3 linked regions of the Homo sapiens genome follow. The protein of the gene in region 2 interacts with the protein of the main gene of each other region in a pairwise test. Each region holds a gene or a part of one and is shown on either strand. Other genes may lie near its edges.

Region 1 (7,678 bases), on a different chromosome or scaffold from region 2:
TCTTCTGCTTCAGCCTCCCAAGTAGATGGGATAACGGGGCTGCCACCACGCCCGGCTAATTTTTGTATTTTTGGTAGAGACGGGGTTTCACCATGTTGGCCAGGTTGGTCTCGAACTCCTGACCTCAGGTGATTCACCTGCCTCGGCCTCCCAAAGTGCTGGGATTACAGGCGTGAGCCACTGCGCCTGACCTCCATGCATGGTTTGAAAGCACCAGCCAGTGCTCAGACTCCACAGGTTGGGAAGAGGGGCAGCCAGGCCTACTTGGCCTCAAGTAGCTTAGCCTGGGCTCTGCTGAGATACACAGATGAAGTCAGGGTGAGGCGGCTTCCCAGGGGAGCCCCAAAGGGGAGAGAAACTGTCACCCAGAGCATGGCTCTATCAGGAGGGCCAGGTGACGAAAACCACACATTTCCTGGTTTACACTCATTAGCAATAAAACAATCAAGACACATTCATTCATTCATTCATTGTTCACTCAGCATATATTTCTCTGACACTTACTGTGTGCCAGGGGCTGTGCTGGGTGCTTATAACTTACATACATAGCTTATCCTGGATCCAGTGAACAACCTCAAAGTCAGTGTCTGGCACGCAATAGGTGCTGAATAAATATTTGTCAAAAAAGCCAAACAGAGAGGCAGTATTTGCAGTGCCAAAGAGATGGTCTTTCCAGCCAGCTGGCCTGGGTTCAAAGCTCAACTCTGCCACTGAAGAGCTGTGTGGCATTGGCAAAGTTACATAACCTCTCTGTGCCTCAATGATCTCTGCCTGATAAAGCTATTGCAAAGATATTAAGAATTAATATTTGTACAGCCCATAGTAGTATCTATGTAGTTAGCATTCAAAAAACATCAGCTATTATTATTACTCATATTTATACCACTGCACACAGAGGCTTCAGCAACTTGCTGTGGTCACCCTGCTAAGAAGTGATAAAGGTTGCCTTCAATCTCAGATCCGTCCAAAGGGAAGATCATGTACTTTTTGTTTCACTTGCAGCCTCCCTTGGACGTCTAAAGAGATGTGGTTTGTTTTTTGTTTGTTTGTTTGTTTGTTTGTTTTTTGGAGATGGAGTCTCACTCTGTTGCCCAGGCTGGAGTGCAGTGGCACAATCTCGGCTCACTGCAACCTCTCCCTCCCAGTTCAAGCAATTCTCCTGCCTCAGCCTCCGAAGTAGCTGGGACCACAGGTGCCTGCCCCCACGCCCAGCTAATTTTTGTATCTTTAGTAGAGACAGGGTTTCACCCTGTTGGCCAGGCTGCTCTCCAACTCCTGACCTCAGGTGATCCACCCGCCTCAGCCTCCCAAAGTGCTGGGATTACAGGCGTGAGCCACTGCACCCGGCCTAAAGAGATGTTAAAGCTCTTTTCCATTCTGGTTTTCTCAGAAATAGTATTTCTGTTTCCTCATTCAGATCTATTTTTTGAGTGAGATTTAATACAGACCAACCATGTCCCAGATCACCCTGCCAGGCACCCCACTCAAGATCTTCGTCGTGATGGCTGGCTCTCCTGGGAACCAGCAGCCATGTCCACAGACCTCCCCATTGAGCCTCTACCCAGACGAGAGCTAAGCCAGAGAAGCCTGTCCCTTTCCCTGCCCCTCCTTCTTGATCACCTCTTGACAAGCCAGGACCACTGCAGATCTCTGCATACCCAGGTGGGAAAACCTGGCTCAGGTCTTCTATGCATTTCTGCTTTCCCTAAAACCCCCTTCTAGTGGTAACAATAACACAGCAACCAATGCCTGTTGTATGTTTGGTGTGTGCCAGGCGCTCTACTTCATTTAATTCTCATGACTTCCGCATGAGGCACTTGGATTTGAGCGCTGGAGCCAGACAGCTTGTTCTTGACTCCCGCCTCTGCCACTTTCTGGCCCTCTAAGCTTGGACAGATTACATGGCCTTTCACTTTTGCAGCTGTACAATGGGGCTAATAACAGGACCTACCCCACAAGGCTTTTGTGAGGATTAAATAACTAATATCTATAAAGTAATTAGACTAGTGCCTGGTACATGGTTAGCAATATAGATATGTTGGCTTGAAAAAAAAAACATTTAAAAGCTACTATTCCCATTTTATAGGCGGGGAACTTTGGGTTTAGAGAGTAACTTGCCAGCCAGGCATGGTGTCTCATGCCTGTAATCCCAAAACTTTGGGAAGCCAAGGCAGGAGGATCGCTTGAGACCAGGAGTTCAAGACTAGCCTGGGCAACATAGTGAGACCCCATCTCTACAACAAAATTTAAAAATTAGTTGGGTGCTGCGGCGCATGCCTGTGATCCAGCTACTCAAAAAGAGAATGACTTGCTCAAAGTCACAAGCTCACAGGCTGCGGGGTCTGGAGTTGACCCCAGTCTGACTCCCAACCCCATAGTTATCCAGAGCGCTCCTTGAAATCCCGAATACGTATGCGCCCAGGGGTCCTTGACAACGCCTTTGCTTTCCACACCCAGTGCCCCAAGTCAGCATCAGGCTGAATCCTCAGAGCTGGTCTCACCTGATATTCCCCAGCGTGGCAATCACGAGCCCCAAAGCCAGCCCGTGGGCCAGGGCCGGCTGCAGCAGCCCAGTGTCCGTCCCATTCTCAATGACCGACAGGCACCCGATGAAGATGAAGAGAGCAGAGCCCAGCAGTTCGACCAGACATGGCTGCACAAACCGTTCGTACCAGGACACTCGCCACCTGCCACCCACGCTCGGCTCCCTGGCCTTGTCATTGCCAAATTCAGGCTCACACATGGCTATCTGCCGTAGGGAAAAAGGGACAGAGGACACGGGTGGGAGGCAAGTCCAGATATAGAAGGCCCCGACCCCCAACCTTGAATTAATTCACAGCCCCCCTTGCTCTGCCAGCCTGGAGAGGAAGATGCCGACAGAGGGCTCACCTCTCCAGACATCAGGATCAGATGGCACAAACATCGGACTCTTGCCTGAGCTGCTGGGAAACCTGCACCTGCTGTGCAAGATACTCTTATCTCCTAGGGACAGGACCTGCTGATCACACTATGGGCTCTGCCCCTTTTAAAGGGCTGCAGAGGCTCAATGCTGGTGCAGAGAAAGCAATAAACCTCAGGTAGGAGGCGGCTCTGAGGCCCAGAAGAGGAAATTTTTTTAAATCTCAACAGGGCAGGGTGAGGGAGTCAGGGATTGCTGAACTTTCCGCCAGTGAGGGAAAAACACGCCAGCTTGGCTGTGTCATCTGGGAGCACACTCCAGGCTGTAGAAGGTGGGAGATGGGTCCAGCACCCCAGCTCCCCACGGTCCAAAGCAGAACAGCACATGTTAGTGGGCCCCACTGGGTTGGAACCTCACATGTTAAGAAACAGCAAACAGCCAGGTGCAGTGGCTCACGCCTGTAATCCCAGCACTTTGGGAGGCCGAGGCAGGTGGATCACGAGGTCAGGAGATTGAGACCATCCTGGCTAACACGGTGAAACCCCGTCTCTACTAAAAATACAAAACTCAGCCGGGCGTGGTGGTGCACGCCTGTAATCCCAGCTACTTGGGGGGCTAAGGCAGGAAAATCATTTGAACCTGGGAGACGAAGATTGCGCAGAGCCAAGATTGTGCAACTGCACTCCAGCCTGGGCAACAGAGCAAGGCTCTGAAAAAAAAAAAAAAGGAAAGAGAAAGAAGAAAGAAAGACAGAGAAAGAAAGAAAGGAAAGAAAAGAAAGAAAGAAAGAAAGAAAGAAAGAAAGAAAGAAAGAAAGAAAGAAAGAAAGAAAAAGAAAGAAAGAAAGAAAGAAAGAAAGAAAGAAAGAAAGAAAGAAAGAAAGAAAAAGAAAGAAAAAGAAAGAAAGAAAAGAAGGAAGGAAAGAAAGAAAGAAAGAAAGAAAGAAAGAAAGAAAGAAAGAAAGAAAGAAAAAAGAAAAAGAAAGAAAAGAAGGAAGGAAGGAGAAAGAAAGAGAGGGCGTGTTGGTGTTTGCCTGTAATCCCAGCTACTCAGGAGGATGAGGCATGAGAATCACTTGAACCCAGGACCCAGAGGTTGCAGTGAGCCAAGATCGCGCCACTGCACTTCAGCCTCAGAGTGAGACCCTGTCTAAAAAAAAAAAAAAAAAAAAGAAAGAAAGAAAGAAAAAAGAAAAGAAAGAAACAGCAATCCCATTTTCAATTATTTTTCCAATGAGTCCCACAGCTTCAAACACCTGCAGTCACCGTGACAGCCTGAGCCAGGACTGAGTGTATAGATGACGATCCTTCACAGACAGAGGCAGCAGAGACTGGCAAGAGGTAATGCAATGCAGCGGCAAGACCCATGAACTTTGGAAATAGGCTGCCTGGCGTTCAATCCCAGCTCTGCTGTAAACTAGCTATGTAACCCTTGGGCACATGACTTGGCCTCTCTGGGCCTTTGTTTTCTCATCTGTTAGGTGTGGATGTTAGTGGTTTCACCATGTCATAGGGTCGTTGGGAAGTTTAAATGAGATAATACGGGTAAAGTGCTCAGGACAGTGCTAGACACACAATACCAGTGTCCACTAATTTACAATACATGCTTAGCTGTAACTAATAGCTAATAGTGAGCACTTTCTATGTGCCAGGCACTGGGGCTAAGTGCCTTCTATTATCTCATTTAAACCTCACTGCCACCCTGTGAAGCAGGTACTATTATTACAACCATTTCACAGACGAGGAAGTGGAGTGTCAGGAAGATTGAGTTTCCCAAGATTACACAGCTTATATGATCACAGAACTTGTGGGCTGTCACAAAAGGATAAATACTGTATCTGATTCCACTTGTATGAAGTACCTAGACTAGTCAAATTCATAGAGACAGAAGTAGAATGGTGGTTTCCACGGCCCGAGGGGAAGGGAGAATGAAGAGTTTGTGTTTAGCGGGTACAGATTTCCTGTTTGGGAGGAAAGTTTTGGGATGGATGATACAGTGGCACAACAATGTGAAGTACTTAATGTCACTGAAATGTACACTTAAAAATGGTTCCAAATGCTGGGTGTGCTTGGCTCACACCTGTAATCTCAGCACTTTGGGAGACCAAGGCAGGAGGATCACTTGATTTTAGGAGTTTGACACCAGTCTGGCCACATGGTGAAACCCTGTCTCTACTAAAAATACAAAAATTGGCTGGGTGTGGTGGTGCACGCCTGTAATCCCAGCTACTTGGGAAGCTGAGGCAGGAGAATCGCTTGAACCTGGGGGGCAGAGGTTGTAGTGAGCTGAGATCACACCACTACACTCCAGCCTGGGTGAGAGGATGAGACTCCATCTCAAAAAAAAAAAGGTTAAAATGGCATATTTTATTTTATGTGTATCTTGCCACAATTGAAAAAAAATACTTGTGAGCTAACCCACTACACTCTACTGCCTTTCTAAGAGAGATGGATGGATGGATGGATGGATGGATGGATGGATGGATGGATAAGTGGATGGATGGGTGGATGCATGGATGGATGGGTGGATGGATGGATGGATAGATAGATGGTTGGGTGGGTGGGTGGGTGGATGGATGGATGGATGGATGGATGGATGGATAGATGGGTGGGTGGATGGATGAATGGATGGATGGATGGATGGATGGTTGGAAAGAAGGGAAGAAAGAAAGGAAGGGAGGGAGGAAGGAAGGGAGAAAGGAAGGAGGAAGGAAAGAAAATGAGATGAGTTCCTTATTCATTCATTCACTCACCAAACATTTAAATAGCTGCTGCAAGCCAGTCACTGTTCTAAGCTGGCTGGAGATGTAGCAGTGAACAAGACAGGCAAAATCCTGCTCTGTCTCATAGCTTTATCTTTGAGTGTTTGTATGCACTGATAGAGAAGTCAAGCTAGAGCTAACGGAATTTTAATGCTCATTTCTGACATTTCTCAACTACTCACTACATCTCCAACACCATGCTAAACACTCGGTATATATTCGTAAACCCCTTTGAGATAAGTCCTATCACTTATTATCACCATCTTCAGATGATAAAAACGAGGCACAAAGAAGTTAAGAACTCACCCATGGCTGTGTACATAAAAATATCTGCTTCAGGACAGAAGTGGACATATCTAGAGAAGAGCGTGACAGTTTGTTGACAGCCCATGTCAGCGAGAGGCCCAGGAATACAGGGTCTCTGCCAAATATCTGCACCTCTAGGAAGGTTATTTTTAGCCCTGTTCTCTACCTCCTCCATATCCCACAGCACATCATACAAGATGTTTCTTAGACCCTTCCTTCCACATCCTATAAATAGCAACATAAGATAGTCTGACCCAAGGCTTCCCCATCCCCCTCATTATTTGCTCAAATCCTGCCAGTACTGCTTCCAGAATAATTCTCTCTTGTTTTCACCCATGCCTTCATCTGTTCTTGCTTAGTCCCTTGAACAAAGAAAAACTAAGCTGGATGCACTGGCTCGCACCTGTAATCCCAGCACTTTGGGAGGCCAACGCGGGCAGATCACAAGGTCAGGAGTTCAAGACCAGCCTGACCAACATGGTGAAACCCCATCTCTACCAAAAATACAAAAATTAGCTGGGCATGGTGGCACACGCCTGTAATCCCAGCTACTCAGGAGGCTGAGGCAGGAGAATCGCTTGAACCTGGAAGACGGAGGTTGCAGCGAGCCGAGATCACACCACAGCACTCCAGCCTGGGCCACAGAGCGACACTCCATCCCACCCCCCCACCCCCCAAAAAATGGATTCTTTGCTCACATAATAGTCCATGACAGGCTCGTCTCCAAATGGTGACTCAGGGATCCAGGCCACTTCCATCTTGGAGCTGCCCCATCTAGGTCCTCAGATCTTCTCCAGCAAAATGGGAAAAAGAGAATGTGGAGGGCTGTGCAGGAAATTATTATGGGCTAGGCCTAGAAATACCATATATCCCTCTCACCTATATTTGATGGGCTCAAACTCAGTCACGTGGCTTCACCTGACTGCAATCGAGCCTGGGAATTGTAGTCTAGCCCTGTGCCCAGGAGGAAAAAGAAAGGCATTTTATGAATATCGAGCAATTTCTGCCACATACTAGAAATTGTTGCTTTCCCAGAGACCATGGTTCTAGTTGAGTTTTTCCCTGAATTAAATCATTCAGTGTGTCCCATGGTTCCAAGACAAACCCAGACTCCCTTAGCTAGCCACAGAGACTTCAGTTCCTAGCCCCTGAATCATCTCTTGCCACATGAACCCTAAACAATTTATCAGATAAGCTATGTACCCTCACCCGGCCTTGTCCATGCCAGTCCCTCTGTTTGGAGTCCTTGTTTGCCCTCTTGGCCAACTTCTACTCCTCATTCAGATCTCAGATCAGATATTATGTCCTCTCTGATGCCTGGGCAAACTACCTATTGGTCCTCTAAAAACACCCTTCCCTTGCTCAAGGCAAGGTTGGATTCCATAACTCCAAAACTAGGCCAGTGCAGCGGCTCATGCCTGTAATCCCAGCACTTTGGGAGGCCAAGGCGGGTGAATCACAAGGTCAGGAGATCGAGACCATCCTGGCTAACACAGTAAAACCCCATCTCTCCTAAAAATACAAGAAATTAGCCGGGCATGGTGGCACGCGCCTGTAGTCCCAACTACTCAGGAGGCTGAGGCAGGAGAATTGCTTGAACACGGGAGGTGGAGATTGCAGTGAGCCAAGATTGCACCACTGCACTCCAGCCTTGGCAACAGAGCAAGAGTCCGTCTTAATTAAAAAAAGAAAAAAAAAAGGAAAGAAAAAGA
Region 2 (7,021 bases):
TCAATTTGTTATACATTACAGCTAACATCCACACTAGGAACTACTCTAAACTGAAAATTCTTTTTGTACTTTAAGCTGATATCGGCAGAATCTGAATCTCCAAATGAACCTTCATCCAAAGCAAAGTCAAATCAAAGTCAAATTATATTGAAAGTAACTATCATCAGAGGTGGGAAAAAGATTTCTCTTCATTTGACAGGATCGAATGCTCTAAGTCAGTATTTTAAACAAATTCAACAACAAAAAAACATTATTTACACCAAATGAGAAAATGATAGCCTATGTGGTGATTATGAAAATGAAGTCATCTCAGTGTTTTACTCTGAAAATTAGGTTTACATTCTGTTTTTATATCACTACAATGAAAATTACCTTTTTTAAAAAATGTTTCATTTTTTTGAGACAGAGCTTTGCTCTCTTTGCCCAGGTTGGAGTGCAATGGCACGGTCTCAGCTCACTGCAACCTCCACCTCCTGGGTTCAAGTGATTCTCCTGTCTCAGCTTCCCAAGTAGCTGGGATTACAGGTGCCCACCACCATGCCGGGCTAATTTGTATATTTTTAGTAAACAGGGTTTCACCATGTTAGCGAGGCTGGTCTCGAACTCCTGACCTGAGGCGATCTGCCCACCCTGCCCTCCCAAAGTGCTGGAATTACAGGTGTGAGTCACCGTGTCCATCAACCTGACTTTAAAAAATAGCCACTGTACCATAACAGTAAAGTTCTAGACTAAAGTGAAAATGGATACTAAATATCAAAGGTATAATTTTCCTTTAACCATACCAGTTTCAGAATATGCAATGGTTAAGAGCATAGCTCTGAATTAAGACCGCCTATATGGCCAGGCATGGTGGTTCAAGTTTGTAACCCCAGCACTTTGGGAGGCCAAGGTGGGAGGATCACTTGAACCCAGGAGTTTGACACCAGCCTGGGCAACAAAGTGAGCCCGTCTCTACAAAAAATTAAAAAATTACTTGGACGTGGTGGTGCGTGCCTGTAGTCCTAGCTACTCGGAAGGTGGAGGTGGGGGGATCCCTTGAGTTCAAGGTTGCAGTGACCTATGACGGTACCACTGTACTACTGGCACATCCTGGGTGACAGAGCAAGACCCTTTCTCAAAACAACAAAAAACAAAAAACCACTGCTTATGCCTATGCTTGTCGTGGTCCCGCTACTTCCAAGCAAAGTGATCTTGAGTAAAAGGCTCCACTCCTCTATGCCTTAGTTTCTTTGCCTTAAAAATGAGAATAAGAGAATCTTCATATGGTTGTTGTGAGGATGAAATGAGATGATACGAAGCTAAATTTAGAACAATGGCACATAAAAGCACTCAATTAAAGATAGCTATTATTATCAAACTCAAGACCAAGAAAAATGTACTTAGCAGTAATAAAATCAATTAAGTACATATTGAATGCCAACTATATATGCATTGTTGTTCCAGGCACTGTGACTAAAGACAAATGTATAATGCATGGTCTCCACAAAACTAACAGTGATCTCTCTGCTTGGGGTGACAATATCAAAAAGCTTGAATTAATTAAAGAATATATAATATAAGTGCGTGCTAAACTGTGAGGGAAAATTGCTTGTATTATAAATTCAAAGGAAATACACCAAAATGAGAGCTAACATTTCTTAAGCACTTACTATGTAGCAGGGACTGTAGATGAATTATCTCATTTAATCATCACAACCCTATGAAATAGGTATTATTAACTCCATTTTAACAATAAGGAAACTGAGAAATAGGTAAAGCAATGTGTTTACACAGCTAGTAAGAAGCAGATCTAGGATTCAAATCCTGGCAATATGACTCCTGAGCCTGCCTACCTAACTATTAAACTATTGCAGGGCAAGGGATTCAACAAGTATTAATAATGTCACCACTGGGGCTGGTCGTGGTGGCTCACACCTATAATCCCAGCACTTTGGGAGGCTGCAGTGGGCAAATCGCCTGACGTCAGGAGTTCGAGACCAGCTTGGTCAACATGGTGAAACCCTGTCTCTACTAAAAATACAAAAATTAGCTGGGCGTGGTGGCATGAGCCTGTAATCCCAGCTACTCAGGAGGCTGAGGCATGAGAATTGCTTAACCCCGGGAGGCAGAGGTTGCAGTGAGCTGAGATTGCGCCACTGTACTCCAGCCTGAGTGACAGAGCAAGACTCCATCTCAAAATAATAAAAATAATAATAATGTCACCATTTATTGAACGCCTGCTATGTGCCAGGCAGGCAGTATACCAGACACTTTCAAACATCCCCCCTTTTTTTTTTTGAGACAGGGTCTCACTCTGTCACCCAGACTGGAGTGCAGTGACGTGATCTCGGCTCACTGCTACCTCTGCTTCCCAGGCTCAAGCGATCAGCGATTTGCCCATCTCAGCCTCCCAAGTAGCTGGGACTACAGGTGTGTGCCACCACACCCAGCTAATTTTTGTATTTTTGGTAGAGCCAGGGTTTCGCCAAGTTGCCCAGGCTGGTCTCAAATTTCTGAGCTCAAGAGATCCACTCGCCTCAGCCTCCCCAAGTGCTGGGATTACAGGTGTGAGCCACTGTGCCCAGCCTCAAACATCCCCTTTTAATAATTTCACTCATTTTATAAATGGGGTTACACACGGCAGGGAAAATAACCTGCTCGAGGTTAATACATGGAAGGGGAGGGATTCAGTCACAGATCTGCTGACCCCGGAGAGTCCATGATCTTTCTGACTTCACTTTGTCTTTCAAAAGCAAAGGAAGGCTGGGCGCCTGTAATCCCAGCACTCTGGGAGGGCAAGGCAGGCAGATCACCTGAGGTCAGGAGTTCAAGACCAGCCTGGCCAACATGGTGAAACCCTGTCTCTACTAAAAATACAAAAATTAGTCGGGCATGTGGTGCACGCCTGTAATCCCAGCTACTGGGGAGGCTGAGGCAGGAGAATTGCTTGAATCTGGGAGGCGGAAGTTGCAATGAGCCTGATCGCCCCACTGCACTCCAGCCTGGGAAACAGAGCAAGACTCCGTCTCAAAAAAAAAAAAAAAAAACAAGCAAAGAAAAACTTAATTGCTATCAGCAGGACTTATGCACAACTGAGAGGATTTGTATAATTTAGATAGCCAATGAGGTAGGGAGAGAAAAGATACTAAAAAAAGGAGGAACCAAAGGGCGGACGCAGTGACTCATGCTTGTAATCCCAGCACTTTGGGAGGCCAAGGCGGGCGGATCACCTGAGGTCAGGAGTTCAAGACTAGCCTGACCAACATGGAGAAACCCTGTGTCTACTAAAAATACAAAATTAGCCGGGCGTGGTGGTACACGCCTGTAATCCCAGCTACTCGGGAGGCTGAGGCTGGAGGATCGCTTGAACCTGGGAGGCAGAGGTTGTGGTGAGCCGAGATCGCACCACTGCATTGCAGCCTGGGCTGTTAACAACAGCGAAACTCTCTTTCTCTAAAAAAAAAAAGGAGGAACCAAATGAGCAAAATATAAACTGAAAGATAGAGTTGAGAAACATAAAGAAAATAGCCTTCCTAGCAAAGAGTAAGGAAGAGTAGAAAATATGGCTAATTTGGGTTAAGATCGCAGGGAGTGAAAGCAAGGTGAAATATTAAGATCTGATTCAGGCCAGGCACGGTGGCTCATGCCTGTAATCCCAGCACTTTCGGAGGCCGAGGCAGGTGGATCATCTGAGGTCAGGAGTTCGAGACCAGCCTGGCTAACATGGTGAAACCCTGTCTCTATAAAAATACAAAAATTAGCTGGGCGTGGTGGCAGGTCCTGTAATCCCAGCAACTCGGGAGGCTGAGGCAGGAGAACTGCTTGAACCCAGGAGGTGGATGTTACAGTGAGCCAAGATTGCGCCATGGCACTCCAGCCTGGGCGACAGAGTGAGACTTGGCTCAAAAAAAAACAAAAAAAAACAAAAACAAAAAAAACCATCTGATTCAATAGACAACAGAGAGCCACTTTAGGCTCTTGAGGAAGTGAGCAGTATAATAAAAACAGGACTTTAGACATAGTGCTGATAGCACCATCAGTATAAACTAGAATGGGGCAAGACCATAATCAGAGACACTATGAATATGCTGTTGAAATACAGATGTTGAGCTGATGAATACTTAAGAGGATAGCAAAGAAACATAAAAAATAAGGGGCAAACATGAAAATAACTTTGAAAGTGGAACCCCAAGGATTTCATAATAATCAATTTTAAATGTTCAACTCTTCTTGCTTTGGGAGACTGAGGTGGGAGGATGGTTTGAGGTCAGGAATTCAAGACCAGCCTGGGCAACACAGCGAGACCCCCGTCTCTAAAAAACTTTTACAACTTGCCAGGCGCAGTGGCATATGCCTGTAGTCCTAGCTATTTGGGAGACTCAAGTAAGAGGATCGCTAAAGCCCAAGAGTTTGAGGTTACAGTGGACTACGATTGCACACTGCATTCCAGCCTGGGTGACAGAGTGAGACCTCCACTCTTCTTATTTTGTTAGTAAACAAGATCACATCAATTAGCAACATAAAGAACAGAAATGCTGTTCTTTTTTTTTTTTTTTTCCTGAGATGGAATCTCGCTCTGTTGCCCAGGCTGGAGTGCAGTGGAGCGATCTTGGTCTTGGTTTACTGCAACCTGCACCTCCCCAGTTCAGGCGATTCTCCTACCTCAGCCTCCCGAGCAGCTAGGACTACAGTCGCCTGCCATCACACCCGGCTTACTTTTTGATTTTTAGTAGAGGCAGGGTTTCGCCATGTTGGCCAGGCTGGTCTCGAATGCCTGACCTCAGGTGATCCGATCGCCTCGGCCTCCCAAAGTGCTGGGATTACAGGCGTGAGACACCTCGCCCAGTCAGAAATGCTGTTCTTTAATCCCTTCAGAGTTAACTTTGAGGCTAATAGGTTTTCAGCTATATCTGCCTCAGCAATACTTGCCCAGACACTTTGTTCCACAGTAAGTCAAATATTTTTCTTCTGTACCCAACACATACTGATAATCACCACTTGTACCAGGCAGTCAACCTTAGCTGTACCTGTAACAACCCACGCAGTGAGCTGCCTTATCTCAGGCTGATGTGCTCAGCAATTCCAACCCCACATCTGTGGCTGAACAGTTTAGAAAAAAGAATAACTATGCTCTCAGACTTTTAATGGGTACAAGTCCTTGCAGGGCTGTATGGGTGTGTGGGTAATATATATGTCTGAGAGCTCATATTCTAAGGGTATATTTGGGTGTGCTGGCCTCTTGGAGAGGTTTGGGGATAGGCACTAGCTTGATAACTGAGTAGATGCAACGTCATCCCATCAATTTCAGATTTCCCATTTCTCACCAAACAATTCCAAAGGAAGAATTTCTTTCTTTTTTCTTTTTTTTTTGAGACTGAGTCTCGCTCTGTCATCCAGGCCAGAGTGCAGTGGCGCAATCTCGGCTCACCGCAACCTCCGCCTCCCGGATTCAAGCAATTCTCCTGCCTCAGCCTCCCAAGTAGCTGGGATTACAGGCGTGCACCATCACGCCTGGCTAATTTTTTTGTATTTTTAGTAAAGACAGGGTTTCACCATATTGGCCAGGCTGGTCTCAAACTCCTGACCTTGTGATCCGCCTGCCTCAGCCTCCCAAAGTGCTGGGATTACAGGCGTGAGTCACCGTGTCCGGCCTGGAAGAATCTCAACTCACACTGCCTAGGGTCATAGGATATGGTATGTACTACACAGTACAAGGGGAAAGAGGCAGGAAGAGTTCCAAAATGGTAGAAATGCCTCATTCATTCAAATCAATTTGATACAATTTATTATGCATCAAGATCCTATATAATGTGATCCCTGGTTACCTCTCTGGCCTCTTTTCCTATTCTGCCTCCCTTTTCTAACGGTACTCCAGCCAAACTAGCCTCCTTGCTCTTCTTTGAACACATCAAAGTCCTTGCTCTTGCCCTCTACCTAGAATGCCTTTCCCAGCTACTCACACAGCTCTTGCTCATTTCATTCACATGTCTACTCACTCAAATGTCAGCTCCTCAGAGATGCCTTCCTTGATCAACTAAAATAATGCACCCACCCTCCCTCTTCCCTGACTCTCTACCCACTTACCCTGCTTTTTCTTCATAGCATTTATTATTACTTGACATTATTTATATGTGTATGTACGTATGTGTGTATACATACTCCCCCCGCACACAGAAACACACATATACACACAATCAGGGGAGGGATTTTATCTCTTGTTCTGCTTCACCCCAGCACACAGCAGGTGCTCCAGGAATATTTGTTGCATAGTGGATCAATGAATCTTTCATATGTTTGGGACTGAGATAAGTACTGGAAATATAAAGATGAATAAGTCATGTCCCTTGACTCAAAGGAGCTAACAATCTGGCAGAGGAGATGAACACACCACGAGAAGAGAAAGCACCACGGCTTCAGGTATTTCCCCCACAGAGTGTCCTCTGGAGAGTGAAAAAACAAGTTATTTGCATACTTGTAAACCTGAAGTGTTAACTGCTATAGCACTGTTATTGATTTATTTATTTTTAATTTATTTATTTAGAGACAAAGTATTGATCTGCCACCCAGGCTGCAGTACAGTGGCATAATCACAGCTCACTGCAGCCTCCAACTCCTGGGCTCAAGAGATTCTCCAGCCTCAGCCTCCTGAGTAGCTAGGACTACAGGCACATGCTACCATGTCTGGCTAATTTTTAACTTTTTTTTTGTAGAGATGGGGTCTCACTATGTTGTCCAGGCTAGTGTCAAACTCCTGGCCTCAAGTAATCCTCCCTCTTTGGCCTCCTAAAGTGCTGGGATTACAGGTGTGAGCCACTGAGCACAGCCCAGAACTGTAATATTAATAAAAAGTAATAAAAAGACAAATTGCTGGTCATAAGAGACCTAGTTTCAAATTCAGATATTGTCATTTGTTAGCAGGGCAACTATTTAACCTTTCTTAGTTTGTTTCCTAATACATAACATGGAAATGATACTGGTGCTTCAGAGTTGTTATAAAATAAGATAATGTATGTAAAGCACTTTTCATACTGCCTGGAACACA
Region 3 (7,529 bases), on a different chromosome or scaffold from region 2:
TCAACAGCCCAATGCCATTCTGTTTCAGAAGTCTATCTTTCCTATACCAGTTTTACCTCTGGTAAAATTCTCCTGTATCACTGTCATATACATGAATTGAGAGAATTTGGAAAAAATTTTCAGAATCTGATCGTGAAAATTGCAAACACATCAAAGATTAGAGAATCAGGGCATAATTCCCCTGCCTAGCAGTTCAAATTTGAACTCCAGGACTCTTTTACATTTGTCTCATAACCACTGTTAAGACCTTCCCTCATCGAACAGAATATCTGTTATTTCCTATTGAGGAAAAAAATTATTACTGTACACAAATTTCACAAAGTAGCTTAGAATTAAATCTGTTTATCTAAATTAACTCTAAATAAACTTGCTTTTATGTAAACTAATAACTATAGATTTAATGTTTTTATAATGACCCTGCTAGGAATATAGGCTGAGACAGTGATTGAAATATACCTCATTATACATATATCACTTGTTTACCACAAATATAATTTTAATAATTTCAAAAAACTTTTCTTTTGTGAAAGTATTTTTAAAAATTGTTAATTTCTGTAATTTTGCAATTTTTCTATTTCTTATGTAGCCAAACACATTTACAAAACTATATTCATTTATATGACATAAATAACTTAGTAGCCTTTGTTGCATATAATAGGCACATTCCAAGACAACTCAAAAAAGGGCAATAAAATTATAAATCACTTTATGTCATAAAATATAACAAATATAGCAATAACAATATCTCTATGCATTAACCTAATGCTTGTTTTATAAACTCTCATCTTCTCTACCTACCAGAAACTCTCTTTTGCATATTCATTAGAAGTTCAATATCAAAGTATAATTACATAAAATGTTTTCTTACTAAACCAGAACACCCGCTATTTTTGAGTTCCTACAACTGCAAGTTCTTATAAGCCTGTGCATTTGTCTGTTTGTGTATTTATGAAGAGTTTAAGAATGTGAAGGTGTTTTTATTCGGAATTTTAAAGCAATGTCATTGGCCCCCTTAAAATGAACATATTTTCCTATTATCTACTTAATCCTAGCAACATGCTAGTAGCTTTATTCATTTCATACTGAACAGTGAAATAACAATATTTTCTCTGATAACACAAAAAACCAAACGACTATTTGCTTCTTCAGTTAATATAATACACAAATATTAAAAATTTTGTCCACTATTGGATCTTAACATTATCTTGCAAATTCTACTTTTTGTGTGTGCTCATTTCCCACTTAAACTATCATTGCTTTTTAAGTTGACGCCTAAAATATCTATTAAGCCAAACTGATCTACCCACAGAGCTTTCTGCAGCAGACTCTGATGCTGACATCTCAACAGTTTCCTGTTCCTGGTATGTTTTTCCCCCCTTGTTTCCTTACAACAGTATAATAAAGAAATAATAGGCTTTAAGCCAATTCAAAACTTACCTTGCAAATCTGGAAATACTCCGAAGTCAAAGTTTCCTGAATTTCCTCTCTGAGAACCCCTGCAGTCCCCGCCGGATGTACGGAACCACTTCCAGCCCCACCACCACTGTTACTGCCACTGCTGCTACCACTGCCAGGGGAGGAGGCAGTTAAGCCATCCAAAACTTTTCGGAAATTAAACTTCTTCATTTTAAACACTGTTGAGAAATACAAAGGAAAAAAAGGGAAAGAGGTGACTTAACACGTGCAATTAGACCTTGGTAAAAGCCTTTCTCTTTTCATTAGTCAAGTCAGTCCCCATTTTATGAGCATTGGTTACGACCGACTGGAAAAAAAGAGTCAGGATTCGTTTTGCCAAATTTTAATTCTAAAAAGCATATCCTTTTTAAAAAAAGATAAATATAACACAACTCCAAAAGCAACAGTATTCCCTCCTCACACATCAGATTTTCAAGGACTGTATCCCCAGCTGTAACTACGCTTTATCAGCACTGGGGTAAAAATAAAAGGCAGTGTCATCATCGTCATTAGCATTATATCATCATTATTATACAATCAAACCAGAGTTCAACAGACCAAGACTCTGTCTCTCTCTTAAGGGCGGACTTTCCTTCTTCGAAACGTTCGGCTCAGAGTATTTTATTTTCAGAAAAACGACGTTGGGGGAGCCGGTATTTACTCTGCCACCACCTTCCGGGCTCTTCCCCCATCAGCTTCAACGCTTCCTTTTTTGTCACTATGAAAGGCGGGGAGGGGGGTACTTTTTCTAGTCCCCATCCCCCAGCAGCCCGGACCCCAAAACATCTGCGAGTGACCCACAGCAACAGCTGCCGGGGAGGGGGGGAGGAGGAGAACGGCGACACCGTCTGTTTCCACTTGTCCCTCCGCCTCCCCCTCACCTCCCCCTCATCTCCCTCCCCGCGTCCTCTTTCCCCCCTCTCCCCATCTCCTGCTCCCCTCCCTCCACCTCTGCCCGCAGCCGCCGCCGCGCTCTCCCGCCTGTTCGCCCGCCCGCCGTCCGCTCTCCCCGCTGCACGGCAGCCGCTCTCGGGGGACGTGAAGCGGTGGCGGCGACGGCTGCGGCCCGAGTCCCGCCTCAGCCTGCTGGGCGCGCAGAGCCGCCGCTCCCGCTGTCCCTCCCCCAGGCCCAGCGCTGAGGCGCGGGGCTCTCGCCCGCCCGCGGGCGCGCGAACACACAAACACCTCACGCCGAGGCATTCGCGCTCCCAGCCAGAACACACACAAACACCCTCACACGGGCATTCGCGCGCTGGTGCGCTCGCTCTCTGTCTCTGTCTCTCTCTGTCTCTCTCTCTCTCAAACACACACACACACTCACACAGACACACACAGGTGCGAGGGAGCCACAGCTGGACGGCGGCAGCGGCGGCGGCGTCCCAGAGGGATGACTATCTGACCCAGGACTTAGGCACCTTCCTCAGACGCCTCTAGCCGCCTGCCAGCCCGGGAAGCTGAGGGGGCCGAGGTAGGCGGGCTCCGGCCGCTTCTCTGGGCCCTCTGGTCGCGGCGCCTGGCGCTCTCCGAGGTCCTAACCGAGCAGTCAGGCTCCAGAGCAGGCTCCGCCCTCCCGCCGTGGGAGGCAGGCCCCGCCCCCGGGCCGGCCCCTAGCTTGCCCCGCCCTGCTTCTTCCCCGGCAAAGCTGGGAGGTGAAGGGGGCGGGGTGCCCGGGGACGTCAAAGGGCGGGAGTAGCTTCGGCGCCAATCCTAGATTCGATAGGGTAAGTTCTGTGGTCTCCAGGGCAGAAGAAATCTGTGGATAGGCCGAAGGTAAAGCCAATGACAGTGGGAGGGGGGAATTTAGAGAAGTAGGTGAGGTATTTGATTGACAGCGGTATTGGCCAGTATGCTGGGGGTCGTGCTCTGGGGGATGTAATTGGCGCTACCTGTTGAAGGACTCAAGTGTGAATCAATAGAATGCCTGCAAGCGTGCGAATTTGGACGCCTGGAGTCTGAGGATGCGGGAAGCGTTGCTTACCTTAGGTATGGCTCTGGACAGTATGGTGAACTGAGCAAGTGTTTTGCACCTTTTCACTTCTGCGAGCCTCTTCCCGGTCTTCAGGAGCATCTATCTGGCTCCCATCACTCTCCTGCTACCTGCACTCAACTTGTATCTGTGATTAACCCCTGCTGTTACCAATAATGGCTTAATGGTTCGTATCTGCCAAGGAGAATTGTATTTCAACAGTTTCAGAATATATAGCCTTCTAGAGCCTAAGGAATTGATTGCTTACCTTGCTCTCTAGTAAGTAGAATTACTCCTTCCCCATCATCCTCACATATACAAAGATATTTAATTTCTTTAAAGAAATATTTCTCACTCTGTAAACCGTATCAAGAATATATTTTAAGCTATTTCTGTGAGTCACAATAATCATTTTGAAAGATGTATTATTCAGTGCAGAAAAAAAAACTGTATCAGGATAGATTTGGTTCTGAGCCCTCACCTGCTATTGACTTCGGGAAAATTTGGACCCCGATGTCTTTGCGAAATGAATGGCAGTTCAGCGGGTCACAGCTAACTGAGACTTCAATTTGGGCATCACAACAGAACTCATTAGTGATCATTTCAAATATTGTCTTACATCTTACAATCTTTGACCTCTTTTTTTCTTTTCTTCTTTTTCTTCTTTTTCACCTCTCCTCTTCTCTCTCTCTCTTTTCTCTCAATCAAGGGAGAGAGTGGGAAGGAGGAAGCAGGAGACTTGAAGGATGATGACTTGTCCAAGGACATAGCAAAGAAATGGTAAAGATGAAATAGAGCTCAGTTTTTCAGATCCTCAGCTCAACGTTGAATCTTTCTGTCCTGAATGACTATTTCACTCCTTTTGGGACTCCCTACACTGCTGGTAGTCTCTCATTGCCACAGCTAGACAGTAACCTTCTTGAAGGCAAGCATGGAATTGTATATTTCTCCTAGATTATTTAGCACCAGGCACAATATTTCACTTAAAATAGGCACGTAAAGGGTTCTGAAGAGTTGGTTTATTAATATTTTTTATTAAAGATATATGAGTTGGTACCCAATTACATAATGTTTGAAAGGGGTAAAAATAATGGTGGAAATAAGTGATATGTCTGACACAAACTAGATCTTGGTAGGGTTCCAAATTCTGTATTGGGTCCCTAACAACAGGTATCTTTTTACTCTTTTCCACCTTTTTTCTTCTCTTCTTCCTGGCCCATTGCTCACCTCAAAGTATGGACGCTAGTTAAGGATAAAGAGTTTGCTTTCCTTGTTTTATGTCTGTCTTTTCTTTTTAAAAACAGAGGCAAGGAGGGTTATAATAAAGTGGCTGAGTTTTCATTTTTCTAATAAATGAAAGCAAGCCTATAGCAAGTAGTGGTTTGACATTTTGATGGGAGCGAAGAAGGAGAATAGCCCCAATTCAGCAAAGTGAGATGTAATGTTTGCAAACAAAACCTCTTAAACTGATCATCACTAGCACCATATTATCACAAACTAAATGATGGTCTTTATTCTAAAAATTGGGGGAGAGCTGAGGAAAAAAGTACACAAAAGATTGACAGAGATCCTTCTTGAGGACCCTGGAGAGAATTCAATGGACTGCCTGAGTTAGATGGGACAACAAATAGGTATAGGAAGTGGGAGAAAAGCCAAGTCAAAATGTATTCATGTTTCCAAATAAATATTGGAAGCCTAAAAAAATATGATCATTAGGATGCTTAGATTGTGGACTATTTGGGATTATTTCAAATATCTGTGTTCCTCCACAGTGAATAGCATAATGTCTTCTACATAGTAAGTGCCCAGTGAATATTAATTTGAATGAATGGCAGCAAGTAAAAATCATAACATAATTGCAGTCTCAGAGAGCCTGTGCACACAGGATATTGTGATGCCAATTCACAAACTGTGAGCAAAGGATAGAATTAAGCAAGAGGCAGAGTACATTGTGTGTATGAGGAGACAGCAGAAACAATAGCCTAAAAATCTTACTAGGTGAGAGAAGCATAATGAAATATCTATGGAAGTAAATTTCATCCTGGATTAATTAAAAAGCAATAAGATGTTATTTTATAAACCATCTATTAACAGCAATGAGACCAGACCACAGCATATATTTTATAAATAATGTGAGAAACTTCAGAGTTGGATCGGGTAATAATAATGATGACCCCTTATCATTCACTGCAAACTGGAAGAATACTTTGTGGAGAGGAATGGCTGAGGTACAGCTTCTGAATAAGGCTTGATTTCTTCCTAAAATGACAAGTATGAAGAACTGCAAAAAGAAAAATACTTTCAGCTTGATCCATGGAGCAAAATCATCAAAGCATTTAAATAAATCTACTACATCAGAAGGATTTTTAGGATGTGTGTTGAAAATATGTTACAACTCACTTTAAGTGTTCGTGATTTTGGACTCAAGCCAACAATGAAGCTAAGAGAGGCTGCCTTTCCACACCTGCAAAATAATTAAATAATTGTAGAAAGTATGTACATGTGTGGCACTTCACACAGAGAAGAAAATTTAACTGGCTAGGGTTACAGAAAACTAAGCAAAATTGACAAAACCATATGTAAATAATCCATTGTATATAGAGATAATAATAATTCTACCAGTTATTTAGCACTACGTCAAACATTGTACTATGAACTTTACATACAACTCTTTTAACTTGATCCTTATTATAACTCTATAAGATAGGTATTGTCCCCATTTTATGAAAGAGGAAATTTGGAGCTCAGAAATATTTAAGAAATTCACCCAAGGTCACTTAGGTGGATAATCCAGTCTTCGAATTCAAAGCTGTCTAACTTCTAAGATCATGCTCTTAATCGGTGCCTTATTATTTGATACCATTTAGAAGATTAAATAGAAACTAGAATAGAAAAAAAGGTGGCGGGTCAATTCTCCACCTAAAATAGTGATTGTATGTGTATTAGTCTTTCAGGACTGCCATAACAAAATACCATAGACTGGGTAGCTTAAAAAACAGGAACTTAGCACAGTTTGGGAGGCTAGAAATCCAAGATCAAGGCATCGGCAGATTTATTTTCTTCTGAGGCTCTCTCAATGGCTTGCAGATAGTCACCTTCTCTCTGTGGCCTTACATGGTCTTTTCTCTGTGGGCTCACATCCCTCGTTGATTTCTCCATGTGCCTAAATTTCCGCTTCTTATAAGGCTCCCAGTCAGATTGTGTTAGAGTCCACCTTCATGGCCTCATTGTGGCTTAATCACCTTTTAAAATATCCTATCTCCAAATATGCTTCCATTCTGAGGTACTGAAGGTTAGGGCTTTGACATATGAATTTTGGGAAGACACAATTTAGCCCATGACAATAAGATCATCAAATTCAACATCCTTTGAGGAGAGCATCTACTATGAGCTGGAATTGTGTTTAAAAATTTACATTTATTGGCCGGGCGCGGTGGCTCACGCCTATGATCCCAGCACTTTGGGAGGCCAGGGTGGGTGGATCACGAGGTCAGGAATTCGAGACCAGCCTGGCCAACATGGTGGCCTGTCTCTGCTAAAATACAGAATTTACCTGGGCACGGTGACAGGAGCCTGTAATCCCAGCTATTTGGGAGGCTGAGACAGGTGAATTGCTTGAACCCAGGAGGCAGAGTTTGCAGTGAGCCGAGATCGCGCCACTGCACTCTAACCTGCGTGACAGAGCGAGACTCCATCTCAAAAAAAAAATTACATTTATTTTCTCATTTAATCCTCACAACAATAATGTATGGTAGCTATAGATAACTCCATTTTACAGGTAAAAAACTGAAGCAAAGCAAGGTTAAGTAATAAGCCCAATATCATACATCTGGTAGGTTTTGAAACAAGAATTTGGACTAATCTCAATCTTACTCCAAAGTTCTTTCCTCACGCTAGTAGTTTTCTGTTGAGGACCCAGAGAAATCCCTTTATAAAGGTGTTTTATATTAGAAAAGTTAATTATGACAAATTCGAGTATTAGGTTAAAACAAAACAGAAAAAAATGGAAAATATCTCTTCAGGAATTTGGATACTAGAACTAAAAAGACATTTGAGAGTTCATGGGCACTGAGTACTAGAAATGGAAGACTTTGGGAACGGCAAGCTA

Evidence for each region.
Region 1: the proteins of STX12 (region 2) and AQP8 interact in binary tests that used the Homo sapiens proteins (3 or more experiments, as listed by UniProt).
Region 3: the proteins of STX12 (region 2) and STXBP5L interact in binary tests that used the Homo sapiens proteins (3 or more experiments, as listed by UniProt).

Annotation. Positions count from the first base shown.
Region 1 is NC_000016.10:25,212,269-25,219,946, reverse strand, and holds the start of AQP8 (aquaporin-8), read right to left. Parts: upstream 3,001-7,678; 5' UTR 2,902-3,000; coding exon 2,890-2,901; intron 2,753-2,889; coding exon of another isoform or gene 2,750-2,752; coding exon 2,502-2,749; intron 1-2,501.
Region 2 is NC_000001.11:27,776,215-27,783,235, reverse strand, and holds part of STX12 (syntaxin-12), read right to left. Parts: intron 1-7,021. UniProt on the Homo sapiens protein: SNARE promoting fusion of transport vesicles with target membranes. Together with SNARE STX6, promotes movement of vesicles from endosomes to the cell membrane, and may therefore function in the endocytic recycling pathway.
Region 3 is NC_000003.12:120,903,676-120,911,204, reverse strand, and holds the start of STXBP5L (syntaxin-binding protein 5-like), read right to left. Parts: upstream 3,001-7,529; 5' UTR 2,871-3,000; intron 2,529-2,870; exon of another isoform or gene 2,014-2,528; intron 1,635-2,013; 5' UTR 1,627-1,634; coding exon 1,438-1,626; intron 1-1,437. UniProt on the Homo sapiens protein: Plays a role in vesicle trafficking and exocytosis inhibition.